Homo sapiens: one gene and its partners. The protein of the gene in region 3 purifies or fractionates together with the protein of the main gene of each other region. This does not show direct contact. Each region holds a gene or a part of one and is shown on either strand. Other genes may lie near its edges.

Region 1 (4,973 bases), on a different chromosome or scaffold from region 3:
AATTTTCTTACCACGAGAACTATCCAAAAATTGAACAAGCTGCATCACAAAAAAGTGAGGTGGTCACTTAAGTATCCAAAAGCAGAAAGCGAAGGACTGCTTAACAGGACAGAAGGAATTCCTATATTCGGAAAAGTCAGAAGTCAATGTTGAAATAAAGGAGAAAAACTACTTGGATAACTGACTTATGACACTAATTTAAAAAACCCAGTGAATACTACATTAAAGAAAAAGACCGGGCACAGTGGCTCACGCCTATAATCCCAGCACTTTGGGAGGCTGAAGCGAGTGGATCACCTGAGGTCAGGAGTTGGAGACCAGCTTGGCCAACGTGGCAAAACCCTGTCTCTACTAAAAATACAAAAATTAGCTGGGCATGGTGGTGGGCTCCTGTAATCCCAGCTACTTAGGAGGCTGAGGCAGGAGAATCACTTGAACCTGGGAGGCAGAGGTTGCAGTGAGCCGAGATCGCACCACTGCACCCCAGCCTGGGTGACAGAATGGGACTCTGTCTCAAAAATAAAATAAAATAAAATAAAATTTAAAAAGAGTTAAGAAAAAGACAAAAGATAAACACCAAATAAAACTTCTTAAATAGGTAGAAACATTGAAAACCAAATTTGGGAAATTTTTTTTTAGCCAATTAAAACTGAATAACATGAGATTATTTCTTATGCCTGGTTCCATTCTAAGTCAACCACACCATCATCAAAATTTCTCTCTCTGAATATATATTCTTTTAAGTACATTGTTATTTTCCTCCATTGCATTATAGACATTCATTCCAAATGTTAACATTCCAAATATTAAAATACTCAAAGTCACAGAAAAGTCAGAATTAAATTTTATTTCACATTGATAGAAACCATGAAAAACATTTACACTTTCCCATGTTACAGCACAATATTTCAATGGAATATTTCTTGCCATAAATAATATCTTGCTGATTTGTAGAAGTGAAATAACAGTTTATGTTCTTCAAGGTAAAGAAAAATGACATAGTAAATGATTGTTTAAAATTTTTAAATCCAGACATAAACATATGGCTTCATTATTAACATCCTGTATAGTCCATTACTAAATTATTTCCATTATCAATTAGCACCCATTTATAAAGATGCATTCTTAATATTGTTTTGGTCAGCTGGAATACAGCAGAAAAATTAACACAGTTGAGAAATATCAAGCATACATTTTTGCTACATATTAATCTGTATGGTAACTACACTTTATGGTATAGGGTTCTGACTAGCCTTTATTACCCATAAGTTTGTTTTCAAATAATTTTTACCAGTAATCTGGAAATTTTGACAATTTAAAATGATTGCTATTTTTATGTCTGCATCAAAAACTAATACAAAAAATAATTTGACTAAAGTGAAAATTTCAAATAAGTCCACTGGCAGATGAAAATAAAGCAAAAAATTACAATAGATTCCTCATCTTCTACAGTAGTTGGTTTCAAACGTGTACAAAGTAAACTCTATACTATGAGAAGATGAAATCATCTTAGAAGTTAGTTTTTAAGATCAGTCTTAAAGATATTTCAGAACATACTAGAATATGATCTAATTATTCTTTCAGTTGTTTACAGAAAAATGAAACCACAGAATTATTCCTGTTACCTGGGTTGAAGATCCTAATAGCTAGGTGTAAATTTGGATAAGGTACAGTAATTCGAAATAAGTAGTGCATGAAGTTTTAATGTCTGGTTTCTCTATAAAGCATAAATAGATTTTAAATACCTTATATCTGTGACCCAGAATGTCAAATTACAGCATGTATTGACAGTAGCTGTCTATTGCAGAGAGGCAATACTTGGCCTGCTATGAAGGACAATAAAGAAAAAACAAACTTTTTTTTTTTTCTTGAGAGAAAAGAGTATTAAATAGAAATAATATCAGGGAAAATAAAAGCCTGGTCCCAAAATAAAAGGGCCATTAATTGAAGAGAACGATTTTACTTTTTCTTGACAATAAACAGCATTATCCCTATTATTAGGAATAATGTAATACCACCTCATTCTTATTATGTATTATAATCATTATGTATATATGAACACATATATAAAAATACAGACACTGCATGGTGACTAAGCAATTTTGGAATAAATCCATAGACTAAGTCACAGCATGCATAAATTGTTTATATCTTAACTGCTCATTTATACCTGAACAAATTTTCATTAAGCATACTGCTAATTTTCAAATGATGTAATAAAAAATCTGGTGGCAGTACTGTATTATTTTGCTGAATTACATTTGAGAAAAAAGAAGCTACCTGCTTCATCTATTCTAATATAGTAGATCCTGGGTCGTCTTATAAGAATACATGTATAGAAACTTAAAAGATCATAAATTTCTCATGAGGAGATATTATTTGATCTGTGTTATTGGCATGTATTTGCAAAACATTTTAACACTGCAAAACATTAGAAATTTGAAGACTGGGCATGGGAAAAGGTTTACACTCTACTACAATGATGCTGGTGTACTTCTACACAAGGCCTCTTAGTGACGTCAATCAATTGGAGGTAGGAGTTTATCAATGAATTGCTTGACATCCATCATTTCCTGTTTGGAATAAAGTAATTTAATAGGTAGGTAGTTATGTAAGTCAGAAATTAAATTCCCACTAAAATGCCACTAATCAAATCTATGGTATGCATAAAGGCGAAATCACATTTTTACTACAATTAAATAAGACAAAAGAGAAATGAGGCTCCAACAGAAATTTCAGGACATTTCCTATCATGATTATTGTACACTGAAATGACAGCTCCCATCCAGTATCTAGTTCTGCATCTTCCTATACTGGAACAATATAAGACACTGGGGGGCAGGGAAGTTTAGAAGCGATGGTGCCTACACTGAGAAGTCTCAGTAAGTGAACAATTACTGACAACTAAGTATGAGTGACAAAGCAGAGCTTCTACCATTCTTCAAACTGAATTATGCGCTAAATCCATAGCATTAACTATGCTGTGTCTTTCATAAAGAATTACATACAACTAACCATTTGATAGAGAGCATGTACCTAAGATGTTCCTGGGAAGATATGAACATTAATATACCAAAGATTTATCATAGAAGAAACTTTCTCCTCTTAGCCTCTTGCATTTGGCTCAGTTTTCTCACCTCCCTCAAACTCACTTCCTGCTATCAGCTCTTATATTTCAAGGCCTTACTTAGCCTCACAGTGCCAAATAGTAGCAATGCAGCTAACCTTCAGCCTTGTAATTTAGTCACTCAGAAAAGAGCCCCAGCATGAAAGTGTTCTATTTCACAATACTCTGAAGTCCCAAAGAGTTTCCTGTGAGATCACCTCCCACTATCCTACTTCTCCTCATTTTCTGCTCCTCCTCATTCAGCCCAGAGTTGTTGTAGACTCATCTATAGAGCTTTTATGAAGCTCCAAGGTATTTGTGATACAAAGCCCATGAAGAAAACAGCTGCTCTAGAGACCTTCAGTCCCTCTTGCACACATTAAGGGTTCCAGGACTTCCCCTGCCCTCTCTTTTCTGGATTCAACACTGTAATACTCTATATCAGTAGGAGAACACCCTAGGTTCAGGTTCCCAGGCACCCTTGTCTTTCTGGATAAATCATATTACCACCTCTTTCTCCGTCCCTAAATTATTTAACCCAGGCTGAGTGGTTGTAAAACTGTCAGTATGACTATCTCACTAGGAATCAATTTTTACTCTAGGTCTTCTCAAGCCTCCAGACCTATCCAGGCCTCCGGCCTCCTTCATTCTATCAAGTGATCGCACCTTCTACTTGACTGAAAAGATAAGCACATCTAATATGAGCTCCCAAGCACTCTCTTCTCTCTCCATCTCCTGTTTATATTCATCCATCCTTTCTTTCTTTTTTTTAGGGTCTCACTCTGTCACTCAGGCTGGAGTGCAGGGTGCCAACATGGCTCACTGCAGCAGCAACCTCCGGAGATCAAGTGATCCTCTCGCCTCAGCCTCTAGAGTAATTGGAACCACAGGTGCCCGCCACCTCACCCGGCCTGTCCTCTTCTATCTTGATTGAAAATGGTTTTCTCCTCTTTTAAGGCAAGCACTATACATCTCAGGACTTAATTCTATTCTATGATCCCTCTGAGAATGCCTCTATCAATTATCTTCTCTTTACTGCATCTTCTTCCTCCCTCCTTCCACTCATAGGTCTTTCTCTGATCCCACTGAAGAACAGATTTCCTACTCTTCTTCCTGTTTACCAAAACTTTTTTAAAAGGTCTATACATGTTGCCTCTGCTTCCTCATTTCCCTATCCACTTCATACAATCCTTTGCATTTTGGCTTTATCTACCCAAACATCCAAGGTCACAGGTGGCTTAATATTGGGTACTTTCTTCCTAAACTATTTCTCCTTAATCCTTCTCTGGAACACATTACACATCTCCTTCCCACTCTGAAATTCTCTCCACCCATACTCTCAACACCTAACTCCTTTTCTCATTAGGCTAAACTGTAATGTGTCCCCCAAAGTTCTATCCCTGAGCTTTTTTTCTTATAATGCTTTCTCAAGATAATTCTTCGTTGATCAATTATATTAGTAATTATTTCAAATCTCCATTTCCAGGCTTGAACTTCAGACAAGTATTTCCAATATCCTATTTTGATATTGTGGGGGCACATTGATCTCAATACATTAAACTCAGTATTATCTCCTTCCTTTACTCTAAAACTGTTTCTTGCACCTACTTTTTATGATGGCATCAGAACTAGAAATCTCAGGCCCTTTTGATACTTCCTTGGTTACTACACCCCACATAATTAATCTCTAAATCCTGCTGGATCACCTGTCTCTAGAATGTAGATCAGATCACATCTCACTTCAACCAAAAACACTGACAGCTTCCTGCTGCCTAGAGAGTAAGTCTAGTAAGTCCCTTCTCAGCACAAAGAGTCTCTGTTCCCTATGTCTTCTGTCCTATCATGCCCAGCTTTTCCTAAGACTGAA
Region 2 (4,392 bases), on a different chromosome or scaffold from region 3:
GAGTCTGAATCCCAGCTCTGCCACGGGCTAGCTTGGATGATCCTGGACAAGTTATTTAAATCTCTGTTTTTTTCCTCTATAAGGATATAATATTTATACATATCTCATAGTGTTGTTAGGCAGATTAAATTTAACGCATATACATTGTTCTGGTATAAAAGGTGCTCCATCAGTGTTTGCTGGTACCGTGAGTTGTAGTCTGCTAATAACAAGAGCAGGTGGCCGGCATGGCTCCCAAGGCTCTGCACGTGCTAAGTTACCATGGCATCGCCGTTCAAAGAGATGGGAGCTGAGGCACAGAGGCTTAATGACCCCACACCCAGAGGTGTTTCTGATAGACCAAAGAGAGGCCCTGAACCCAGGCTCCCTGGGAGGGCTTCTCTCTGATTCTAGGTTGCCTGACACCCACACAGGGCACTCAGCCTGGAGATGGGTGCCTAGCCAGGAAGGGTAGGGAGCCCAGCTTTCCCAGAACAGAGAAGTGGGTAAACTGCCTCGGACACCCTGTGCTCAGGACCAGCCGGGTGGTCAGGGACAAATCAGGGTCAGTGTTCCTTCCTGGGTCTGGTTTTTTCCATTTTCTCCAGAGGAGCCTAGGGTCTTCCTGTGAGGCCTGAGTCCAAGGACAGGAGCATGGGTGGCTTTGAGCAGGCAAGTGACCCACAGCCGTGCCCTTACCATTTTGTCATCATTCCCAAAGAGGATGAGTCCTGCTTTGGTGACCACCCCTGGCCGATGGGCTCCTGGGATGGGCAAAGCGTCTCCCTCGGGCACCAGGCCTGAAGTGTTCAGCGTTGAGTTGAAAAATGTCAGTTTCTGTCAAGGGGAGAAATATCAGAAGATGGTGGGTGAGAAGAAGCCCCCGAAGCCAGTAGCCCAGGCAGGTCTGAGCAGGGCTGGGAGAGGGAGAGGGGCCAGGGGTAGCTGAGACCTGGGAGCCGGCTCAAAGCCCATGTGACCCCTGAGGCCCTTTCTCCTGGGGCACAAACAAGACCTGGAGGAGCCTCAGTGGCCTCAGGGAGCTGATGGCAGGTCTGCCTCAACTCTGCCATAAGACCCTTCTCCTTGGCCCATGGCCTCAGACCTGAGGTGCACAGACTGGGGGAGAATGTGCTCCAGGCATCACGGAATGAGGCTACCTGCCTTCAGGGTGCTGCCAAGGAGTGGTTGCTTTGATCAGAAGATGCATTTGCTAGTACAAAGGGCTCTGCGTTGATGAGGACAGCAGAGAGGCTTCTGGCCACAGTCTGGGCAGTCGGCTGGGGGTCAGGGGTCTGGAGAGTCTGAGACTGTGTGGGGGACAAGACTGCCCTCAAGGTTTGCACAAAGTCCACCACACACAGTCCCGCCACCCCTGATGCCTCACTAGAGCCTGTGACCCCCAAGTCTCCCCATCTTCAGCATCTGGCCTGCCCACGGTCAGCCTGGCCCTGAATGTGCTGCTCCACCCTGCCTGAGGCCAAGTCAGAGTGAGTACTGGGCCTGGGGTCTCCGCAAGCCCAGTGGTGAGACTCAAAATATTTCACCACCAATACAGCTGGGCCCCAGGGGCACTACAAGGGCCTGGAGGCCTCCAGCTACGCAGGACATCTATCCTTTAGCTACTGCAGGCTGGGTAGGTCTCTCACTCCTGGGGAAAGGCTGGGATGTTTAGGGGGCACCCAGTGGGAGTAGGGGCCAGGGCAGTAGCTATTTATTATACCAACCAGTTCAAACATGTGTGACAGTTTAATGGCCAGTGGGATACACCAATGCACGTGGCTGGATTCCAGCCATGCAGGGACACACCTGTTCACAGGCCTCTGTCCAGGCTCCCGGCACCTTGTCGTTCCCGCGGATCCAGTTGTGAATGGCCTCTGCCGGCTGGTCCCAGTTGATCTGTGGGGAGCAAGGTGTGTGTGCTCAGCTGGTCTCTCCTCACTCCCCTCCCACCCTGATGACATCTGGACAGTGGACCAAGCTCTTGTGAGACAGCTGGTAACCCCAGCTTCCTCTTAGACACTTGCAGGAGTCCCTGAGCTGGTGCCCCTAGTTCTGGGTGCTCTCTGACCCTCAGTCTCTCATGGGCTGAGCAGACTTCAGAATGGTTTGGGGAAGATAATGTTCTGTTGCTGTCAAGATGGCCCAGACCCTACACAGAGGCCCCAGCACAATGTACTCAGGCCCGTCCCATAGGGCCCAACCTTTCACTGGCAGGGCCCCTGTGGGTCCCCACACAGCAACCCATACTCCTGAGCTGAGACACAGCCTACAGGCTTCTGAGGCTCCTCCACTGGCTATTGCTCCAGAGACCCGCACTGTCCCTCACACCTTGCCTTGAAGACTGCTCGCACTACGGCTGACGTTTTGCCCCCTAACTCCCACTCTTATCTCCCTGTGGGCTTTGTCTGCCCATTCCTCCTAAAGAGGAACAGGAAAGAACCTGGAATGGACCCTGTTCGCTACCCTCCCAGGTGCCAGGGTCCTCCTCCTCCACGGCTCTCTTCATGCATCCCTGACCTGGGCTGCCCTGTGTTCTGGCCTCAAAGAATTACAACCTGCACCATCTGGGCTGAACCCCAGCCTCCTCAGGCTGCCCTCTACAACCCCAGTCTGCTCACAGGCAGGATGAGGGTGTGGAGGGACCCAGCACTCACCTTGGCTGTCTCCTTCTTCTGAATCCCCTCATAGGTGGCTCCTTCCTCAGGCTGAGGGAGTCTGGGGGCTTTGCCCTCAGCGATCAGCCTCACGGCCTGCACCTGGGGAGATCCAGTGGGTTGCTATCCCCAGCAATAGGACCCTGCCTCCTTCCCAGCCCCAGGGCCCACATTGAGCCTGGACCCTTCCCCAGACTGACCAGACTTGCCTGGTACACAGCAGTCACCCAAGAAACACCTGCCATATGAACAAGGGAGTCAGCGTGAACCTAACTTCTATTGCACAACGGACACAGACCCGTCCTCTCTACCTGGCAAAGGTTTAGATTACATAGATCTTACATCTTCTGATATCTTAGATGATTATATAAACTGTAAAGCCCTGCAGGTATAACACAGACACAAATGTCCATGTTGCTGTCTAAGCCTTCTCTGCCTTTAAAGAGAGTGGGTCCTGAGCCCCGTGGTGGGCTTGAAGGTGGAAGTTTGGAGGTCTGAGATGAAGCAGGAAGTTGTTTCTCTGTGACAGGAAAGAGGAAGGTGGTGGGAAAGGAATCAGAGAGGGAGAAGGAGAGCCAAGGAGTCTGGGCCCACGTGAGCAAGAGCCTGAGGGAAGAGACCGGGAGGTGCCAAGAATGGGAAGTGACCGGGTGTCAGAGCATCTGAGGCAGGGCTGCCCAATGGAGCCCTCTGTGGTGATGGATGAGTTCCAAGTCTGCACGGTCCAACACGGTGGCCAGGGGACTTAGAATGTGGCTGAGACTGAGGAACTGAATTTTTCAGTATAATTCATTTTAATTGATTTAATAGCTGCATGTTACCAGTGGCTGCCTTGTTGGACAGTGCAGCTTCAAGGAGTATTTGAGTTGCTTGCCGTGGGAAGCACAGGTAAGCTCCCTCTCTGTACCACTAAATCTCCAGCAACTCTACTTTGTTCACTATTTTTGTGAGCTGGTCAATCTGTGGGGAAGACAAGTTTAACACAACCGAAAAATAAAAGGCAGTGGCCAGGAGCTGAGGAGGACGAGGGGACAGTGGACACTGCAGCTGCTCTTCCTGCTGCGCCCAAACAGCAAGGGCTCCCCAGGGCCTCCTTCCCTCCTGCTGCATGCCTGGACAGCACCTCTGCCTGTGGCCGTCCCTGCCAGCCTGTCCTCGGGCAGGGGCAAGCAGCCCTCACATATGATCCCCGGGCCCCTCCTGCAGCTGTGGGCTCCGGCCCATAGCCTGCCACCCTGCCTCTCAGCAGTACCAGCTGCCCAGGTGACTGAGCCGCCCTGCCGCTCAGGCCATGTGACCACAGGTCACGGCCTTCCCAGCAGGAAGCATGTGACGGAGACAGCCTATCAGAGCACTCCATCACCCCAGCTGGTGATTGGCTCATGAGGATCACATGACCCCCAAGCTGGCCAATCAGAATCTCCCCTGATTTGTGATTGATGAATTCTAGGAGAAAAAGTGTTTCTCTTTCCCTGGAATCAAGAATTAGAATCCTTGAGCTATAGTGGCTATCTTTCCTCTAATTCAGGGCAGCCAAACTGAGAATGAAACAAATCACACAGAGAAAAGGAGAATCAACGAGTGAAGGAGAGAGAAATAGAATCCTAACGATGTCATAATTGAAGCTCCTGGATTCAGCAGGGTGTGACCCAGTCCCTGCCTTTAGCCTTCCTTGTCTATTGAACGGGCCCCAAAATGTCCCCTTTTTGCCAAACGCTTTTTGAGCTGGGTTCTGTCCGTTGTGAGCAAGATTCCC
Region 3 (5,162 bases):
AGCCCTGGAAGTTTGCTTTCTGTGATGCTAGTGGAGAATGCTGAATAAAGTGAAGGAAGCAGACCTGGGTCCACAGTGAATCCTTCTGGATTTATACAGTGTTAGAATCCCAAAAATGTTTGAGAGCTGCAGGCCTTGGAACTCCTCCAGCTCAACCATCTCAATTTACAGATGAAAAAGCGGAGGCCCAGGGCACACAGCTATTTAGTGTCAGGCGGAATTCCCATTCTGAGTTCTGGACTTTCTCTGTGACTTCTCCACACTCCATCTGACTAGCAAACTTTTTAGTTCCACGTCTAATGCAGCAGCTACTATATGCCAGGCCCTGTGGTAGATGGTGGTGATTCAAAGATGCATATGACTATTATGATCTAATTGGTGACAGAGAGCTTCAGAACTAATTCTAACTGGTAAAAATTACCAATAGATTTTAATATATGGGTAAATGCTTATGTTAACAATGCTAAATGAGAAAACAGCAATGAAATTGTATATATAGTTGGCCCTTGGACACATATTTGAACTGCACAGGTCCACTTATACACAGATTTTTTTTTTCACCCAAAAGCGGATAGAAAACAGTATTTTCAGGCAGAAATGCTTAAACAGAGGGCAGACTTTTCCTATACGCGGGTTCCCCAGGGCCCACAGCTGGACTTGGACTTGAATATGGGATGATTTTAGTATGGGGGGGCGGAGGGGAAGAGGGCCTGGAACTAGTCCGTTGAGTATAACGAGGGACAATGCTAAGTATGTTATAATCTCATTAAAAGTACACAGAACTTGAGATACGCAATAACCTACTAACGAACCAAGTGTTACAAGACATGCTAAGACCTTGTGTTGTAAGTACTTGTGCACTTACTCGATCTCCCTGCTTTAGGGCCAGGACCGAGTTTTTTTGTTTTTGTTTTTGTTTTTGTTTATGTATTCTCTCGTTGTATCAGTTCATCTTGCCCCAGACCTGTCACCCACTAGAATTTGTTGTTAAACAAATGAAGCTTCCTTTCTCATGTGGCCCCCACCCCTCTCCTAAAGGAGAATAAAAGGTCGAGAGAACGGATGAGGTTAGAATGCTGGTGGGACTGAGATGGGAAAGGACCTTAAAGGTTACTCGCCCAAAGAGGAAAACCAGCCTTTTCCCTGCAGACGGAAACTGACGCGCTCCCCCTGGAGGCAGCGCAGGATGCTCCCGGGGGTCCAGGCGTCCCAGCCTGAGGTCCCCATCCTCGTGTGCAGCCTGGGCGCCTGGTACAAGTCGGGGTAACCCTGAGGCTTGTGCATCCAGAGAAGCTAGGTCCCCGGTGGAGACTAGCTTGGGATAAGGTTGGGGAGACGCCCTCCGTTCTTCTAGATGCCTGGGGTCTCAACAGCAAGCAGTGAGGAATGAGACTCTTAACTGAACAACTCCTGAGACTGTTAAAGGAGTGCATACTATTACAGGGACAGGCATCCCCTGTGAACCTACTCATGAATTTTTCCTAATGCTTAATTCAGCTTGGGGGCAGAAATGCTGGGGTGAGACACGGCCAGGTCCGCCCCGTTCCTCCAGGGAACTCCCCTCTCCGCCCTCCCTCTCCGTCTCCTCTTGCCCACCTCCTCCTCCTCCCCTCCCCCCACTCCATCCCACCGCGCCCGCCCCTCGTCATCGCCCCCTTTCCCCTCCCATCTCCCGGCCGTGGTGCGGCGCAGCTCTCTCCCCCTCCGCAGTCTCAGTGGCGAGCTCTGGGTGCTGTGGCCCGGCCTTGGCGGGGCGGCCTCCGGCTCAGGCTGGCTGAGAGGCTCCCAGCTGCAGCGTCCCCGCCCGCCTCCTCGGGAGCTCTGATCTCAGCTGACAGTGCCCTCGGGGACCAAACAAGCCTGGCAGGTAAAGATGAAGCTCCCCAAACCCAACAACCTTAGAACTTAGAAATTTCCCTGAGAAAGGCAGGACCTACCCGAGGAGAGCTTCTTTGAAGGACTTTGAAGAAAGGGATCAAACTTGACACTTTCTTTCAGTCCTCAAAGAAACTAACCACCCTTCCCATAGGCAATTCTGTGTGCCGGCCTCTGCACAGTTTAATATTAACGACAACAATGTTTGCATTGGAATATAAATGGAATTCTTTCTGCTTAAGCAGTACCAGAGGGGACCCTCTTTATTTTTATGATTGTTAACAGATGCCATTGAGAAAGGTATGAAACGCATTCCTGAAAAGTCTCTTTGGCGGGGTTACTATGAAAGCTAGCCTCTCCCCTCTACCCTTTTATCAACTTGGCTGCGGAGGTCAGCAAAAGGAGCATAGGAAAACGTTTAGAAAATGAGGCGGCGAAATGAAGTAGAAAAGCTTTTGACTTGCTTTGAAATACTCTAGCTGAAAAAAAAAAGTGTGTGGGGTGGTGATGGTGGATGAAACATTGGCAAAATATTGACAATAGTTGAAGCTGGTGATGTGCACATGGGGGTTGTACTTTTCTCTCAACTTAATACTTTTCTCTGTGCTTTTGTGTAGTCTTGAAATTTTCTATAATAAAAGGTTTTTTAAAAAGTTGTAGAAACACTCCCGCTTGATTGCTCTGACATTTTTACACTGTCCTTGATTTGAAAAGAAGCTGCTTGCTGTGTCTAGGGGGCTTTCACCCCTTATTAACCCTTCTGACTTCTGAAATTCATTCTTATTTTATCCGAAGTACATTTGTCTCCACAGAGGATTATAAAAGTCATATTTTGCTGGCTGGAGAATTATACTTAGAATCTGGTTTATAATTTAGAAGAGAGAATGTTAAAATCCCTGCCAAATAAGACATGTAGGCTTGAAGGTAGAGGCCAAGTATCATATGGAATTTTATTTTTATTAGGAAATATTAGAGGAGTTCCTTTAGTGAGGGAAGTGGTAGATGTGGATACTGTACCCCATTTTTCTTCCAGATAGCTGGGAAAACTGCATGCTTTTAAGAAGCTTTTTCACGTTTTAAAATGTGAGACTGTTTAGCATATACTTGGCATACAGTATGTGTTCATTAGATGTTAAAATAAGCAATTGCTAGTGTGAGTTAATTTTCTCCATTGGGTAAATGATTTTCCTCTGCCCAATGCTCAAATATCAAACAAGCATATTGCATTTTAACAGTAGGATCAGACTCAGAATTTGGGAGGATAGAGCTACTTTACCTTAGCACTGAGGTAACTTTGCAGATGAGAAATCTGAGATGGAGAGGTTAGGAAACAGTAAAGTTAAGTTAGTAGTATGCAAGCTATTATTTTATAACTAAAAAACGTTAAGCTTCGTATAGGTAAAACTGATGTGGGTTAGCTAAAAACATTGTGACCATAGATGCTTTAAAACCTGAAAAGTAGCATACCTATTTATAGATATTCTTTGCTCTCAAAGGCCAACTTGAAAAATACAGATAAGTCTAGAGCTATATGCTGTGCACTTCATAAGGCAGCATATGAAAGAGTCCTCTTGGGGTTCCTTTAATGTCATTCACCCAAAATTTGATTTATCCATAGGATTGCACAAATTGAGATGTACAGGTCATGGAAAAATAGCCCCCAAACAAAGGGAGGTTTTGTTTTTTATTGTGATGAGAAACAGAAGTTGTGGGTTACTGTAAAATAATCAACTGTGTAACTTTACCATCTTCCTTTCCCTCAAGTACTGCCAAACTTTTTAAGCAGACATTTTTTTGGTCTCCATTTATGAAACTAAACTTGAAAATAGTGCTATGGTATGATATTTTGAATAGAAATTGGCCCACTGTCAATGAACTTTCTTGCCATTTATTCTCAGCCTAGAATCAGTGGAGAGCTTATCCTTTAGTAATGGATTATAAAGTATTTGATAAACGTGAAATATTTGGCAGGTTCAAGATTTTCCTTAGCATTGAAATAAATTGTGGCACATTTGGGGGACTAGTTAACAGTGCTGTAGGTCATGCTGGAAGTGTGCTGGCACTACAACTGTTTTTGAAAAACTATCTGCCAGAAAATTGTCTGACTGTAGACAGCATTATCAGCCCTCAGTTCATCAGGATGGGCTCTGTGGCCTGTAGGTAGGTGGGTTTTCTAAATATAATAAATTTCATATGTCTCCCTATGTCACAGCCATTTAGTATATTATTAGCCAGTTAAAAGTTTTGCCCCTGCTGAATCTTACATGCTTTTAAAATAAAATCTATTTCACAGCTGAGTAAGTGTAAACATTTTAAATACCTGCGTTAGATTTGCCATCACCAGGCTAATTTTGCCATCTAGTGGTAGCAACATGGATAACAGGCAAGTTCTTCCCTGGATGACTAGGAATTGAACCTTCCTGAGAAGCATTGATGAGTAAATTACTTGTGTTTTCTCATTTGTGGTTTACTCTAGAACTTTAAAGCTGGAAGAAATCTTAGAAATGTTCTAGTCCAACTCAACAGTTAAGGACTATCAGAGAGATTCTTTAAAATAAAGGCTTCGAAATGCATGGCGGAGTTAGCAGGTGGTATGCATTTGTTGAATAGACAAATTTATCTATCCTGTTCTAATTCTTGTTTTTCCTCTAGCAATATTGCATCCTACCACTATGAAGTTTTATCGTGATCTTCTGTTTTTAGTTTTAAAATTGCATTTCTGTATATTATTTCTTAAAATAACACATTTTCATTTATATTTTAAGTCCCAGAAGGAAACATTCTTTTCTACTGTTTTTGTTTGTTTGCTTTGAGACAGGGTTGCCCTGTCTCATTCTAGTTGTCCAGGCTGGAGTGTAGTGACACAATCACAGCTCACTGCAGCGTCCACCTCCCAGCTTAGGTGATCCTCCCAACTCAGCCCAGAGTAGCTGGGACCACAGGCATGCGCCACCACACTTGTAGAGACAGGGTCTCCCTATGTTGCCCAGGCTACTCTCAAACTCCTGGACTCAAGTGATCCTCCCATCCCAGCCTCCCAAAGTGCTAGGATTACAGGTGTGAGGCACCGCGCCCGGCCCTTTTCTACTTTTTAATCACTCCCTACTACTACTACTTCTCTTTTCTTTTTTTTGACGGAGTCTCGCTCTGTTGCCCAGGCTGGAGTGCAATGGCGTGATCTCACCTCACTGCAACCTCTGCCTCCCGGTTCAGGGGATTCTCCTGCCTCAGCCTCCCCAGTAGCTGGGATTACAGGTACACAACAGCATGCCTGGCTAATTTTTGTA
Region 4 (5,103 bases), on a different chromosome or scaffold from region 3:
CCCAGCACTTTGGGAGGCCAAAGCAGGTGGATCACCTGAGGTCAGGAGTTCGAGACCAGCCTGCCCAACACGGCAAAACCCCATCTCTACTAAAAATACAAAAAATTAGCCAGACGTGGTGGCAGGCGCCTGTAATCACAGCTACTCAGGAGGCTGAGGCAGCAGAATCGCTTGCACAGGGGAGGTGGAGGGTGCAGTGAGCCAAGATCACACCACTGCACTCCAGCCTGGGTGACAGAGTGAGACTCTGTCTCAAAAACAAAAACAAAAACAACAGCAACAACAAAAAAAAACAGGGGCACATGGAGAAAGACAAGAAATCTAAGGAGGCAAGAGCTTGAAGCTTCAGGGCGAATGTCTGAACTTCGTGTTGAAGAATGGATACCATTTAGAGATGAAGAGATGTGGGAAGGCAGTCTAGGAAGGGAGCATGAGCAAAGGCACAGGAGCAGGGATGTGCAGAGCTCATAATTTAGGAAAAAGGACTGGTCCAGGGTCACTGGGTTTAAGACTGTGTGATGGGAAAAGGTGGTGAGACGGCAGGGCGCAGTGGCTCATGCCTGTAATCCTAGCACTTTGGGGGGCCAAGGCAGGCAGATCACCTGAGGTCAGGAGTTCAAGACCAGCCTGGTCAACATAGTGAATCCCATCTCTACTAAAAATACAAAAATTAGCTAGGTGTAGTGGCGCATGTCCCAGCTACTTGGGAGGCTGAGGCAGGAGAATCGCCTGAACCTGGGAAGCAGCGGTTGCAGTGAGCCAAGATCGCCCGCCACTGCCCTCCAGCCTGAAAAACAGAGCGAGACTCCATCTCAAAAAAAAAAAAAAAAAAAAAAAAAATGGTGGTGAGAATAAGATTAGAACAAAATTCGGTTTCAGTCTCTGCTCAGATCCTGTTTCATGGATGTCTGACTCCACTCAAGGAGGCTTTGGGGATACAGAATCTAAGCACTAACGGTCCTCGGAGGTCTTCTGGGGATAAGGTTCCCTGTCCATTTCCCTAGGAATCACCTCTATGGTATCCTTCTGTGTGCAAAGGAACCCACAGGGGAGGAGTAAAGATGGAGCCTTCGATTCAAGAAAGTAACTGCAGACAAGTAACTAAGGCTCAGTTTCCTCAGGTGCAAAATGTGGGTAATTGACTTGCCTAATACATAGGATCGCTGAGAAGGCCCAACGGCTAGGATTACAAGCGTTGGAATTACAAGAGTCCCACCTCTGCTCTGTCCTTTACTAGCTGTGTGGACCTTATACACTGGTAAGTCCTTAATTTCACGGAGCTTCAGTTTCTCTTCAGTAACATATTTGTAATAGTATCTACCTCCTAAGGTTGATCTGATGATTAACCAGAATAATGAATATAAAATGCTTAGCAAAAACGTGGCACGGAGTGAAGTACTCAGCAAATATTGGTTATAATGGTTGAGGAAATGACATGCACTATATACATGAGGTTTCATTGTCTGAAAACATGCACGATTTGTTACCAAAAGACTTATCCTGGGCCGGCGCAGTGGCTCACGCCTGTAACCCCAGCACTTGGGGAGGCCAAGGCAGGAGGATTGCTTGAGACCTGGGCAACATAGTGAGATACTCTCTCTACAAAAAATCAGCCCAGCATGGTGATGTGTGCCTGTACCCCAGCTACTCCGGAGGCTGAGGTGGGAGGATCCCTTGAGCCCAGGAGCAGTGAGGTTGCAGTAAGCAGAGATCGCGCCACAGCACTCCAGCCTGCGCGACAGAGCAAGACCCTTTCTGAAATAAATAAATAAATAAATAAATAAATAAATAAAGCGATTTTAAAAAGAAAAGAAAGACTTATTCTGGAGGATTGGCTACATAGTGCAAATAAACAGAACAAAAATCTAGGGCCGCTGTAGCGGGCAAATTCGTTCACCAACTCCAACCAGACCCCGCCTCCAAGCAGGCAAGCCCCGCCCTCCCCAGGCTGCACCCTTGTCCCCGCCCCGATGCGCCTGCGCAGGGCCGGCCGCCGGCGGCCGAGGCGATGAGGGTGTTGGTGCGGCGCTGTTGGGGTCCTCCGCTGGCTCATGGCGCCAGGCGTGGGAGGCCGAGTCCCCAGTGGCGAGCACTGGCCCGACTCGGCTGGGAGGACTGCCGGGACTCCAGAGTCCGCGAGAAGCCTCCCTGGCGGGTGCTCTTCTTCGGCACGGACCAGTTCGCCCGCGAGGCGCTGCGGGCGCTGCACGCCGCCAGGTACCCGGGCCAGGGATCCGGGGACCCGGCCGCTGAAGGCCTCCAGGCCGCGCCCGGGCGGCCGGCCCCGAGGGTTTTGGACTTCTGGTTGCGGAAAGCATGGGCGGCAGAGCGGTGTGGGCCCAGATCTCGGCGTCTTCTGGCTCCCAGAAGGTGCGCCATTCCCGCCGGTCAGCCTTTGGGCGCCTAGTACCTGCGGTCTGCGCCCCTCACTCCCCGCCGCCTCTGTGGGTTCTCCAGGCGCCCTGCCACCCACGCTGTGCCGAGCTGGGGCTGGGCGCTCTGCCTGCATCCCCCGGGCCAGTCCCACGGCCTCCCTGCCCGTTTTGAGTGTGGGGAATCCGTGGCTCAGAGAGGTTATGCGATTGCCCAAGGTCATCAGCCGAGGTGGTTCGGACTAAAACCAGGTCCCACTTCAAAGTTCCCTGCTTTGCAGTTCCTCCTGACCCCCATCCTTCGGCACACCCGTGTCTCGCTCTTTTGCTCCCCCTGTGCTCCTTGTATACAAGGACATAGTCCAAAAACGACCTGTTTTCAAAAGAATAAATTTATAAATCAGAACTGTTAGGTATACATTTAGTATTCATAATATTTAACAAGTTTTGTTTACTGGGAAAGAAAATTATTTGAAATCCAACCAGTCCTGAGAGTCCATGGTATGTGGTGGCAATACCGTATATACTTCTCTGCCTCTTTTTCCCAATTAATGTTTTTTATTTCCCCATTCTGTTTTTTTCTGACGCAGTCCTCCTTCCACTTTTTTTGGTCATCTCCATCTCCTTTTCCCTACAGATACTTCACAGCAGCCCCTCATGTATTGAATCCTTCGTCAATCCCCTGTGTGGTTTTCCTTCCTCCACACACCCCTCTGTGCACACACCCGGAAGGAAACCCCATGTTCCCTTTGCACACCCTTCATGGGCTGCTGTTGTCACATGCGTCTCTCACTGCATTTATACATTTATACCAACACTTTTTTTGTTTGTTTCTGAGGCGAGGTCTCGCGCTGTCCCCCAGGCTGGAGTGCAGTGGCCGGCTCATAGCTCACTGCAGCCTCGACCTCAAAGATCAAGCAATCATCCCATCTCAGCTTCCAGAGTAGCTAGGACTACGGGCGTGCACCACCACGCCTGATTTTTAAATTTTTTGTAGAGGCGGGTTTTCACCATGTTGCCCAGGCTTATCTCAAACTCCTGGGATCAAGTGATCCTCTCACCTTGGCCTCCCAAAGTGCTGAGATTACAGGCCTGAGCCATCATTCCTGGCCTATCCTGATACTTCTGATGATGCTTCACTTGGCAGCTCCATTACTCCTGTGCTTTCTTTATAGTGCCCCAGGACATACTCCTCATAACTCCTCAACGTGTACATACAATACCTGTTTAATAAATGTACCCCCCTGGGTACTAGAATGCTATGCAGCAGGTAGAAAGGATGAGGTAGTGCTACAGGTACTGCCATGGAATGATAGCCATGTTATGTATTTTTGTTTGTTTTTTAAAAAGTAGTGTTTGAATGGCATCATGGTTATGGTAAAAAAGTTCCATGGATTCAAAGGATATACAGTGAAAAGTTACTTCCTTCCACCTCTGTTTAGCAGTTCCCAGTTCCTTTATCCAGAGACAGCCACTGTTTTCAGTTCCTTCTAGAAATGTTCAGTGAATATACAAATATACGTATATTTAACCCATTTTTCAAAAAGACACATAATAGCATATATAGCATTGTTAAAAGGAAAAAAAATGCAAAGCAGTATGTAATATCCCAGTTGTGTAAAGTATCCATACTGTATATGTTTCTGTATGCACAGGAAATCCCTAGAATGATACTGTTCAAACAGTAGCCACTAGCCACGTGTCACTCTTTACATTTTAAATAATTAAAATTAAATAAAAAATGAAAACTGAGGCTGGGCACGGTGTTCACGCCTGTAATCCCAGCACTTTGGGAGGTGGAGGCGGACGGATCACTTGAGGTCAGGAGTTGGAGACCAGCCTGGCCAACATGGGGAAACCCTGCCTCCACTAAAAAACACAAAAATTAGCTGGGTGTGGTGGTGCATGCCTGTAATCCCAGCTATTCGGGAGACTGAGGCAGGATAATCGCTTGAACCTAGGGGGCAGAGGTTGCAGTGAGCTGAGATCGCTCCACTGCACTCCAGCCTGGGTGACAGAGTGAGACTCCAGCTCAAAAAAAAAAAAAGAAAAAGAAAAAATGAAAACTCAGTCTCTCACACTAGTTTTAATCATTTAGCCCTAAATGCTTCATGAGATTAATCATAAACATACTTAGCGATATGTGAAGTAGTTTTAGCTTTGAGTCATTGCCTTAACACTGTCACATTTTTCTTCCTATCTAATTTAGGGAAAACAAAGAAGAAGAGTTAATCGACAAACTGGAGGTGGTCACAATGCCTTCCCCATCACCAAAAGGACTGCCAGTGAAGCAATATGCTGTGCAGTCTCAGCTTCCCGTATATGAGTGGCCGGATGTGGGATCTGGAGAATATGATGTTGGAGTAGTGGCTTCGTTTGGCCGACTTTTGAATGAGGCTCTTATTCTTAAATTTCCCTAGTAAGTTTTATTTGTAAGGAAATACAGTATAGAAACCTTGGTCTTTATAAATGGACCTTGTATATAAAATGTGATAATTTGAACTCTATGCTTTCTGTAATATTTTCTTTTTTTATTTTTACCATTTTATTTTTCTGTACATGTTTGCTTAAAGTCAATGAATTTCTCTGCCAGGTTCAGGTAACTGAAGGGCCTTTAGAAGTAGTTTATATTGTTTAAACCCAAGGAATGCTGCAAACACAGTCTGGAACACAATAGGAAATAACATCTTTCTAAAGACAGGCTTATAAATTTGAATCCAGTAACTTAAGA

The links. Proteins that work in one complex are often made in the same cells at the same time.
Region 1: the proteins of PRSS35 (region 3) and LYPLA1 purify together in Homo sapiens (co-immunoprecipitation; one large-scale study listed by IntAct). This does not show direct contact.
Region 2: the proteins of PRSS35 (region 3) and ALDH1L1 purify together in Homo sapiens (co-immunoprecipitation; one large-scale study listed by IntAct). This does not show direct contact.
Region 4: the proteins of PRSS35 (region 3) and MTFMT purify together in Homo sapiens (affinity purification with mass spectrometry; one large-scale study listed by BioGRID and IntAct). This does not show direct contact.

The regions. Positions count from the first base shown.
Region 1 is NC_000008.11:54,045,546-54,050,518, forward strand, and holds the end of LYPLA1 (acyl-protein thioesterase 1), read right to left. Parts: exon of another isoform or gene 3,709-4,973; intron 2,574-3,708; coding exon 2,520-2,573; 3' UTR 822-2,519; downstream 1-821. UniProt on the Homo sapiens protein: Acts as an acyl-protein thioesterase. Hydrolyzes fatty acids from S-acylated cysteine residues in proteins such as trimeric G alpha proteins or HRAS.
Region 2 is NC_000003.12:126,152,766-126,157,157, forward strand, and holds part of ALDH1L1 (cytosolic 10-formyltetrahydrofolate dehydrogenase), read right to left. Parts: intron 2,739-4,392; coding exon 2,637-2,738; intron 1,879-2,636; coding exon 1,789-1,878; intron 817-1,788; coding exon 679-816; intron 1-678. UniProt on the Homo sapiens protein: Cytosolic 10-formyltetrahydrofolate dehydrogenase that catalyzes the NADP(+)-dependent conversion of 10-formyltetrahydrofolate to tetrahydrofolate and carbon dioxide.
Region 3 is NC_000006.12:83,510,828-83,515,989, forward strand, and holds the start of PRSS35 (inactive serine protease 35 precursor), read left to right. Parts: upstream 1-1,706; 5' UTR 1,707-1,867; intron 1,868-5,162.
Region 4 is NC_000015.10:65,026,519-65,031,621, reverse strand, and holds the start of MTFMT (methionyl-tRNA formyltransferase, mitochondrial), read left to right. Parts: upstream 1-1,982; 5' UTR 1,983-2,008; coding exon 2,009-2,217; coding exon of another isoform or gene 2,218-2,370; intron 2,371-4,581; coding exon 4,582-4,791; intron 4,792-5,103. UniProt on the Homo sapiens protein: Methionyl-tRNA formyltransferase that formylates methionyl-tRNA in mitochondria and is crucial for translation initiation.